3 linked regions of the Homo sapiens genome follow. The protein of the gene in region 2 purifies or fractionates together with the protein of the main gene of each other region. This does not show direct contact. Each region holds a gene or a part of one and is shown on either strand. Other genes may lie near its edges. The genes, in order: GRM1, TRPC1 and ENKUR.

Evidence for each region.
Region 1: the proteins of TRPC1 (region 2) and GRM1 purify together in Homo sapiens (affinity purification with western blotting, with the first as the bait; one study listed by BioGRID). This does not show direct contact.
Region 3: the proteins of TRPC1 (region 2) and ENKUR purify together in Homo sapiens (affinity purification with western blotting, with the first as the bait; one study listed by BioGRID). This does not show direct contact.

The regions. Positions count from the first base shown.
Region 1 is NC_000006.12:146,434,501-146,438,155, forward strand, and holds the end of GRM1 (metabotropic glutamate receptor 1 isoform alpha precursor), read left to right. Parts: coding exon 1-296; 3' UTR 297-3,101; downstream 3,102-3,655. UniProt on the Homo sapiens protein: G-protein coupled receptor for glutamate. Ligand binding causes a conformation change that triggers signaling via guanine nucleotide-binding proteins (G proteins) and modulates the activity of down-stream effectors.
Region 2 is NC_000003.12:142,730,442-142,734,096, reverse strand, and holds part of TRPC1 (short transient receptor potential channel 1), read right to left. Parts: intron 1-3,655. UniProt on the Homo sapiens protein: Forms a receptor-activated non-selective calcium permeant cation channel. Forms a heteromeric ion channel with TRPC4 or TRPC5 that has reduced calcium permeability compared to the homomeric TRPC4 or TRPC5 channel.
Region 3 is NC_000010.11:24,988,514-24,992,168, forward strand, and holds part of ENKUR (enkurin), read right to left. Parts: intron 2,097-3,655; coding exon 1,950-2,096; intron 1-1,949. UniProt on the Homo sapiens protein: Adapter that functions to localize a calcium-sensitive signal transduction machinery in sperm to a calcium-permeable ion channel.

The sequences.
Region 1 (3,655 bases), on a different chromosome or scaffold from region 2:
ACGACGACAGCGAGAGGTTTAAGCTCCTCCAGGAGTACGTGTATGAGCACGAGCGGGAAGGGAACACGGAAGAAGACGAACTGGAAGAGGAGGAGGAGGACCTGCAGGCGGCCAGCAAACTGACCCCGGATGATTCGCCTGCGCTGACGCCTCCGTCGCCTTTCCGCGACTCGGTGGCCTCGGGCAGCTCGGTGCCCAGCTCCCCCGTGTCCGAGTCGGTGCTCTGCACCCCTCCCAACGTATCCTACGCCTCTGTCATTCTGCGGGACTACAAGCAAAGCTCTTCCACCCTGTAAGGGGGAAGGGTCCACATAGAAAAGCAAGACAAGCCAGAGATCTCCCACACCTCCAGAGATGTGCAAACAGCTGGGAGGAAAAGCCTGGGAGTGGGGGGCCTCGTCGGGAGGACAGGAGACCGCTGCTGCTGCTGCCGCTACTGCTGCTGCTGCCTTAAGTAGGAAGAGAGGGAAGGACACCAAGCAAAAAATGTTCCAGGCCAGGATTCGGATTCTTGAATTACTCGAAGCCTTCTCTGGGAAGAAAGGGAATTCTGACAAAGCACAATTCCATATGGTATGTAACTTTTATCACAAATCAAATAGTGACATCACAAACATAATGTCCTCTTTTGCACAATTGTGCATAGATATATATATGCCCACACACACTGGGCCATGCTTGCCAAGGAACAGCCCACGTGGACATGCCAGTCGGATCATGAGTTCACCTGATGGCATTCGGAGTGAGCTGGTGGAGCCAGACAGAGCAGGTGCGGGGAAGGGAAGGGCCCAGGCCAGACCCATCCCAAACGGATGATGGGATGATGGGACAGCAGCTCCTTGCTCAGAAGCCCTTCTCCCCGCTGGGCTGACAGACTCCTCATCTTCAGGAGACTCAGGAATGGAGCGGCACAGGGGTCTCTCTTCATCCACTGCAACCCATCCAGTGCCAGCTTTGAGATTGCACTTGAAGAAAGGTGCATGGACCCCCTGCTGCTCTGCAGATTCCCTTTATTTAGGAAAACAGGAATAAGAGCAAAATTATCACCAAAAAGTGCTTCATCAGGCGTGCTACAGGAGGAAGGAGCTAGAAATAGAACAATCCATCAGCATGAGACTTTGAAAAAAAAACACATGATCAGCTTCTCATGTTCCATATTCACTTATTGGCGATTTGGGGAAAAGGCCGGAACAAGAGATTGTTACGAGAGTGGCAGAAACCCTTTTGTAGATTGACTTGTGTTTGTGCCAAGCGGGCTTTCCATTGACCTTCAGTTAAAGAACAAACCATGTGACAAAATTGTTACCTTCCACTTACTGTAGCAAATAATACCTACAAGTTGAACTTCTAAGATGCGTATATGTACAATTTGGTGCCATTATTTCTCCTACGTATTAGAGAAACAAATCCATCTTTGAATCTAATGGTGTACTCATAGCAACTATTACTGGTTTAAATGACAAATAATTCTATCCTATTGTCACTGAAGTCCTTGTAACTAGCGAGTGAATGTGTTCCTGTGTCCTTGTATATGTGCGATCGTAAAATTTGTGCAATGTAATGTCAAATTGACTGGTCAATGTCAACCTAGTAGTCAATCTAACTGCAATTAGAAATTGTCTTTTGAATATACTATATATATTTTTTATGTTCCAATAATGTTTTGTACATCATTGTCATCAATATCTACAGAAGCTCTTTGACGGTTTGAATACTATGGCTCAAGGTTTTCATATGCAGCTCGGATGGACATTTTTCTTCTAAGATGGAACTTATTTTTCAGATATTTTCTGATGTGGAGATATGTTATTAATGAAGTGGTTTGAAAATTTGTTATATTAAAAGTGCACAAAAACTGAGAGTGAAAATAAAAGGTACATTTTATAAGCTTGCACACATTATTAACACATAAGATTGAACAAAGCATTTAGATTATTCCAGGTTATATCATTTTTTTAAAGATTTTCCACAGCTACTTGAGTGTCTAACATACAGTAACATCTAACTCAGCTAATAATTTGTAAAATCTTTATCAATCACATTTTGCCTTCTTTTAATTTTTATGTTCATGGACTTTTATTCCTGTGTCTTGGCTGTCATAACTTTTTATTTCTGCTATTTGCTGTTGTGTAATATCCATGGACATGTAATCCACTTACTCCATCTTTACAATCCCTTTTTACCACCAATAAAAGGATTTTTCTTGCTGTTTTGATTTCTTCTATTATTTGTGGAATGAATTATACCCCCCTTAAATATCTTTGTTTATGCCTTATGTTCAGTCATATTTTAATATGCTTCCTTCATATTGAAGCTGCTGATTTCTCAGCCAAAAATCATCTTAGAATCTTTAAATATCCATTGCATCATTTGTTCAGAATTTAACATCCATTCCAATGTTGGAGGCTTGTATTACTTATATTTCATCATATTCTATTGCCAAGTTTAGTCAGTTCCACACCAAGAATGAACTGCATTTCCTTTAAAAATTATTTTAAAACACCTTTATTGAAAAGATCTCATGACTGAGATGTGGACTTTGGTTCCATGTTTTCATTGTAAGAAAGCAGAGAGCGGAAAATCAATGGCTCCAGTGATTAATAGATGGGTTTTTAGTAATTGACAAATTCATGAGGGAAAGCATATGATCTCTTTATTAGTGAATCATGCTTATTTTTTACTCTTAATGCCACTAATATACATCCCTAATATCACAGGGCTTGTGCATTCAGATTTTTAAAAAATTAGGATAGATAAGGAAACAACTTATATTCAAGTGTAAGATGATATCAGGTTGGTCTAAGACTTTTGGTGAACACGTTCATTCAACTGTGATCACTTTATTACTCTGAATGCCTACTATTATCCTGATTATGGGGTCTCCTGAATAAATAGAGTATTAGTCCTTATGTCATCATTGTTCAAAATTGGAGATGTACACATACATACCCTATACCAAGAGGGCCGAAACTCTTCACCTTGATGTATGTTCTGATACAAGTTGTTCAGCTTCTTGTAAATGTGTTTTCCTTCGGCTTGTTACTGCCTTTTGTCAAATAATCTTGACAATGCTGTATAATAAATATTTTCTATTTATTAAATGTGTATGTTCTTTCTCTATAGTCTGTGAGAGTTATAATAATAGAAATAGACCAGTGGAAGAAATAATTCCAAGGTTTTGATTTGACTCAGAACATGTCTTCTGGGTGAAAGCTGGAGAATGCCACACAAGATCTACAGATCAAGTAGGTGAGAAGTACAATTTGACCATGAAGAAGTGGTACCTCATGTTGTAACAGTTTTAAATGAACTCCAAAATTAAAATTTGCAGTGCCCTTGGCAGATATTGTCATTCGTCTTTTTGATGAGGGTGTGAGGCTGAACAAACTCCTGGCGTTCTAGTGGAGCTCTGGGGGCAAAGGCATCCAATGTTCCCAGCTTTGTTTCATTCATGCCCTACAAGGCTTTTCTTTCCATGGTTCACACTTTAGGGGGGCCTCGTTTCCAACCTTACTGCTACTCTTCTGCTCACCCTAAGTTCTATTCCTCTACATTTCAACTGACACCTCATTGGTTCCCCAAACAAAGGAGTCTCTGTTATTCACATTTTCTGCTATGAGATTCCTGCAAAGTAGGGCATTTCCCAAGTATCACT
Region 2 (3,655 bases):
CTTCTTTGAAGTCTCCATGTGCTGGTAGATTGGTTTTTCTCCTCATCTACCTCTTTGCTGAAGGTACAGTCCTTTAAGAATCCTGGTTTTATGCTTAGATGTTGAATCCAACTCCTCACTTTGTACAGTCTCCAGGCCTTGTAACCTGTTCTCATATGGGCATTAAGACTCAAATCCCTGCAATGCCCAGAACAGTAACTCTTATCCCCACCCATGGAGCAGCCATAGTGTCAGCTCACAAACTCCTGTTTTTCAGTTTTTTCTTCACTTTTGTATCTTGGTTGTTTCCCCTACTTTCTTGAAAGCTCAGCTGTTCATTTAACTGGATGTTCATTATATTTTAGCTATAATTTCTAGGTGATTTGAAGAAGAAAGGTTTTCAGATTATCTAATCAACCATATTGCTAGAGACAGAAACGTAGGAAGAGCTACACAAATAAATCCTTATGACATTTTATAAATTTCAGGTATAGCAAATAGACAAAAATAACTGCTACATGTTTAAAAGTTTAGATTGCTGTTAAAAAGGAAAGTACATTACAAATATCATATATTCCAGCTTTAAAGTTTTTGTTTTGTTTTTAAGACAGAGACTCACTCTGTCACCCAGGCTGGAGGAGTACAATGGCACCATTTGGCTCACTGCAACCTCTGCCTCCTGGGTTCAAGCGATTCTCCTGCCTCAGCCTCCTGAGTAGCTGGGATTACAGGCAGCTGCCACCACGCCCGGCTAATTTTTGTATTTTTAGTAGAGATGTGGTTTCACCATGTTGGCTAGCCTGGTCTCGAACTCCTGACCTCAAGTGATCTGCCCGCCTTGGCCTCCCAAAGTGCTGAGATTACAGTCATAAGCCACCGTGCCCAGCCCTAAGGTTTTAAAGATTATTTCTATTGTAGTCAAGGAGCTATACAAGAAAGAAAGAAAATCCCTAAAAATCAAAACCAAATAAATAATTTTCATCCCTAAAAATAAAAGGTTCCACCCTGCTACAGCTAACACAGTCATGCAAATGAAAAATCACATTATAGTCACAGAACCTACAGGAAACCTAGAGTGGTTGCTAAGCATTTCAGAGAAGTTTATATTTGCAATTCATTTAAAACAATGCACTATGTCAAAAAAAAAAAAAGACCAGAACACTCTTAATTTTTAGGATGAGTATATATGTAAAAAGAGGTCAGAAAACTTAAAATAGACAGCAAGTAGCTAGTTATAGAACAAGGATTACAATTCAAAATGCCTGTGTATGACAGACAAATATATAAATGCCATTCATTTTATAACGAAGTTGCTTTCAAGAGTTACATCTTTTGTCTTTTAAAATATAACACATAGAAGGAAGTGCAACATAATCTGTTTACTTTTTTGGCTAGATGGTAGTCTTTTTCAGTCAAGGAAAAAGAAACCATTTTCAATCAATTCCACAGGGAGTATACCAATTCAACAGCACGTCTTCTTAGCCCCCTCTCTAAAATATCTCCCATAATCATCTACTTGTCTCCATGTATACTGCTACCCACAGTCCAAACCCCCATGATCTTCCTCCTGGACTCTGCAATAGCCTCTTAACTAACACAGCTGCTGACCAAGATTCTCTCCTTAACCAAACTCTAGTCAGGCTTTTCTGAGCCCTTCTCCACAAGGCCTCCACCTTGGCCCATATAAACTTGAACAAAACACTTAAGTGTTTCTAACAGCTGAAGGCCGGATCCCTAGGATGACCCTAGCCCCTCTTAAAATGCCTGCCCGAGAAAACTCAAAGCTGACATAAAAATTTACTTTTGTTCCAGCCAACACCTGAAGACAGGGCCCCTATCTCTCAGCCTCCAGGGAGGGTAGGAGCCTAACTCCTTAAGTGCCTTTAGCAAACTCAGGTGGGATTCACATGGACCAACTCCCCAAGCCCCGTATTTTGTAATTTTTCACTTCCCTGACTCCACTGAGCCCACACTCACCCCCTTCCTTGTTTACTCTTTTCCCTATTGCAACTTATATTACTTACTAATACTTTATACTGTAGCACAGGGGTCAACAAAGTTTTCTGAAAAAGGGTTAGAGAGTAAATATTTTAAGCTTTGTGGGCCATGCACTCTCAGTCACAGCTACTCAACTCTGCCCTTTCAACACAAAAGCAGCCACAGACCATATGTAAACAAATGATAGTGGATGTGTTCTAAGAAAATTTTGTTTATGGACACTGAAATTTGAATTTTATAGACTTTTCATGTGTTACGAAATTTTTTTTAACCATTTGAAATATAAAATGTAAAAAACCAGTTTTAGCTCCAAGACCTCACAGAACAGGCAGATATGGTCTGTGGCCCATAGTTTGCTCACTCCTGCTCTAGCCCCACCCCTTCAATCCACTCTGCACTCCACAGCTAGAGTTATCGGTTAAAAATTCAAAACACAAGCCGGGCGCGGTGGCTCATGCCTGTAATCCCAGCACTTTGGGAGGCTGAGGCAGGCGGATCATGAGGTCAGGAGATGGAGACCATCTTGGCTAACACAGTGAAACCCCGCCTCTACTAAAAATACAAAAAATTAGCCGGGCATGGTGGGGGGCACCTGTAGTCCCAGCTACTTGGGAGGCTGAGGCAGGAGAATGGCGTGAACGTGGGAGGCGGAGCTTGCAGTGAACCGAGATCACGCCACTGCACTCTAGCCTGGGCGACAGAGCGAGACTCGGTCTCAAAAAAAAAAAAAAAAAAAAAAAAAAAATCAAAACATATCAAGCTTACAAACTTTGTGATTTTTCTATCACACTTAAAATAAAGGCCAAATTTCTACTGTGGCCTACAAAGCCCTATAGGACTTAGTTAGACCTTGTTAACATTCTGAATTCATCTTGTGCCTCTCTGCGGCTCAGCCAATGATCATTCCAAACCAATGTTTTCCAAACTGCAGGTTGCAACCCATTAACAGTCATAAAATCAATTTAGTGAGTCCTAACCAGCAATTTAAAAAAAATGAACTAGTATACAAAATACCAGAGTGATCCCATAGATCCTTAGCAACAAATTTACTCTGGCCAACTGTAATAAACCCTTGAGAAATACAATGGAGAAATGTTACAATACTGATTAAGAACAGGTGATTCCACCTCTTCCTCATTAGCATCTCGTTTGATTTTATGGCAAAGAGAGTATCAATGTTGTTCAGTTTAATTTTATATTAACCAAATTTGAAGTTAGTTGTGAAGTGTGAGAGAATTTAATGTCAAAAAATTTGTAAAGCTTTTCAAACCAAGTTTCTGTAACAAACCTGAGTGTGGCAATTGCAACATTCTAACTGAAATATTACCAATGATGCTTAAAACAGAAAGTTTTATTAAGAGGAAAAAGAATGATGATGTGAAAAAATAAAAAGACATGATCAAGTTCAGTTGCTGGATCTGGAAATATAAATGACAATACTGATAAAAATGTTAACTGACATCAAACTTCAAATTAGCTTGAACCAAATTTTAAAAAGGAAAAAAAAAAAAAACCCATGCAGACTTTTTACAGTGAAAATGATTTAAAATGTAGCTTTATCAAATGTGCAAAACTCGTATTACAGACCCCAATGTATTTATAACCATATTATTGTAAATGAAACCTTCAAAATTAAAGATACTAAAAAACATGGTAGGCTAAACTGTTTATAACACTT
Region 3 (3,655 bases), on a different chromosome or scaffold from region 2:
GTGAGAGGAACTACGGATCTATGTACATGTAGAGATATGAATGTGTGTCTGTGTGCAGCTCCTCAGTTTCATAAGGTTCCAATGCACTAGTCACCACTGGAGGATTATAGATCTTTAGCTGGCCTGAAAATGTAGAGTGACACAGCATATGTATATATATATATATATATATATATATATATATATATATATATATATATATATATATATATATTCCTCATTTTAAAAATGAGAAGTTTGGAATCACTAGACCAGATGATCCTGTCCAGGTATAATGAGACTGTTATTTTATGAAGAATGAGCAGAATGTGGCTTACTCAGGGACATACAACCAGATTGTCATCGAACTACATGCAACTCTTGCCTAGGGAAGGAAGTGTGGCTCAGGGCTCGTCAGGAGGCCAGCCGGTGGCTTTGTTACTATGGCAGCTCTGCTCCCTGGCTCATAAGGCGTCCAGTGGATGATTTGCTATCATCACATCAAAGGGTAACTCTGTAGCGACCGTAATGGGAAGCTGAGGGCTGCTTATCTCCTACAGCCAAAAAGACACAGAAGGGAAGGACCTGTCACTTCTAAGTTCTTTGTCATATTCTTATTTTTCAGCATCATTTAGGTGTAAAAACCTGGCTTTCACAAAGGCACGTACTTTCTGAAAATGGGAAAATCCAAATGAGAGAGACAGAATGGGCCACAGACGAGAACTCTCCCTGAAAATGACATGCCAATTCTCACTTCCATGTCTGCCAGCCTTCCTTCCTGCCTGTCTGCCTTCCTCCTTTGCAGCAGACCATTTCTGAACATCTGCGTTTTCACTGGGCACTGTGCTAGGCACTGGGGATGCTGCTGTCAGCAAAGAGACACCGTCCTTGCCTTTGAGCCACTCCTACTGTCTGGGACATGCCGTCACTCTACATTTTCAGGCCCAGCTAACGATCTACAATCCTCCAGGGGTGACTAGTGCCTTGGAACCTTATGAAACTTAAGAGCTGCACACATACACATATTCACATCTATACATGTACATAGATCCATAGTACCTCTCACTAATTAAATTGCACAATACTCCACTGCAGATATTTTAAAAAATCTTATGCCTTTTAAAATATCCTCAGGGTTTAGCATTTAAGAAATGTTTATTGATGATTATGATGACATTGATAAAATGTTCAGAAGTTGTAACAGCATATGAATCCATTTTTCAACAGAGATTAATAATAAACTAGAAATGGCTTCGTGGGATGCTTTCAAAATGAAAAATAAACAAAGAATTAAGTATTATTTCTGCCTCTATAAGAGACAGTATGACTATAAAAAGTACAAAGAGGTGTTTAATTAAACGCTCATACAAATGATGAAGCAGAAACTCTTACACCCCCTAATATTTTAAATGCTTCAGATAAAAGCCCTGCATTAAAAAATCCAATATAAATATATCTTTAAGTCTATGTAATTAAAAACAAGAAAAACATATGTGAAACCTAGCACCTGTTTATTTAAAATTTTGGACATTTGCCTTATAGGAAAGGAAAAAAAGTTGTTTTAAGGACAGTTTCAATTATTCTAGAGCTCCATCTAGTGAAAAATATCTAATTTATGAATATTATTTTTCACAAACTCAGGGGCATAAAAATGAAAATAAAAATGCTTTATTTGCTTCATTTCATGCATGTTCGTTGTAGAGGAAGGTAGGCTTCCTTACAACACTAGTTCAGGAAAAAAACAGTTCACCAAATTGGAAATAAAATATTATTAAATGAATCCCTATATCACAACTTTTTGCTCTCTCCAAAGAGTCAGCTTTGCTGTATGTAGTTTTTAACTGTAACCCAAAGAGATTGTTCTGATTTCAAAATCCAAGTGCTGACTTTAATCATCAAAGTGATGGTACACCTTTCTTTCAGAGATGATCCAAAGAGTTACAGATGAATGTAAATGGCAGAACACACACCTGCAAAACTGCCTCCCTTTCTTCATCGGAGAGCCTTTTCATAGCTGCTTTCTTAAGGTTTTCCTGGATATAACGATCATAGTCTTCTTGGGCTTTCTTTATTTCCTCGTTTCGCTTACATATGTATTCAGGTGTGACACCATAATCCTAAAAAGATTTTGCAGAAAAAAGTAATCAATATTTTGTATGCAATCTTACATATGGGTACGTATCAACTGATGATGGAAGAAAAAGAAATGGTACAGACTAAATCCTTTGTTCAAAACCCTGTAAATTGACAAAATTCAGTGACTTTTTTCCCTCCATTGAGAGCTAGTAGATTCCTGCCTTTTAAAATGGAGTTGTTATTGCCCAGGCATAGTGGCTCACACCTGTAATCCCAGCACTTTGGGAGGCTGAGGGGTGGGGGGGTGGATCACTTGAGGTCAGGAGTTCGAGACCAGCCTGGCCAACATGGTGAAACCCCGTCTCTACTAAAAATACAGAAATTAGCCAGGCATCGTGGCATGTGCCAGTAGTCCCAGCTATTCGGGTGGCTGAGGCACAAAAATCTCTTGAATCTGGGAGGCAGAGGTTACAGTGAGCCAAGGTGCCACTGCACTCCAGCCTGGGTGTCAGAGTGTGACTCCATCTCTAAATACATAAATAAATGGAGTTGTTATTGCAGTTGCTTGTTTTCCCTTTTCTGAATGTTTCCCACGCCTGCTCCTGGCTGATACTTTACTCCTAAGAGTTGGCTTTTCTACCTTCTACGTTCTTCAGTTTTTACCTGAAATATCTTGAATAAGATATTCAAGAGTTGGCTTTTCTACCTTCTACCTTCTACATGCTTCAGTTTTTACCTGAAATATCTTGAATATTTTGAAGTCTCTTTTTCGTGGTCTCGTTAAAGAAAAGACAAAGTCTTTGAAAACTTATGCCTCCATCCTGTGCCTATAAAACCCCCCGAGACCCTAGCAGGCAGGCACACAAATGGCTGGACGTCGAGAGGAACACATCAATGGAAGAACGTATAAGTGGAGGCTGTTGACAGGGGCGTGCCAACAAAAGAGCACACCAATGGGCACCAGCATGCCGGCAGGCCATCGATCAGTGGAACAACGCAGAGTTTGGCCGGGGTGGTGGGAGGAGAGCCCGGGCCACAGAGCTGCCCGGCTCCAGGGAAAAACCATCTCCCTTCTGGCTCTCCCATCTGCTGAAGCTACTTCCACTCAATAAAACCTTGCACTCATTCTCCAAGCCCACGTGTGATCCAATTCTTCAAGTATACCAAGGCAAGACTCCTGGGATACAGAAAGTCCTTTGGAAGCCCTCTGTCCTTGTCATAAGGCAGGGAGTCTAATTGAGCAAACACAAGCCACCTATGGACAGCTAAACCAAAAGAGCACCCTGTAACACACGCCCACTGCGGCTTCAGGAGCTGTAAACATCGACCCATAGACCCTGCTTTGGAGTCAGAGCCTCACAACCTGCCCTTCGGCATGCTCCCCCTAGAAGTGTGAGCAGTGGGGCACTGAAGAAGTGAGCCACAGCCCTATGGTACACTCTGCGAGGGGAATAAGGGAATTTTCCCATGTCACAACGACTGACAGTGAAGCCATCAGCTGTGATTCTTTCAGCTTAGTAAATGCGTTTGATTTCACCATCTATAGAAACAGAATTACTATGTATTCCTTCTTCAAAAGATGTTTGAGAATGTACTTGGT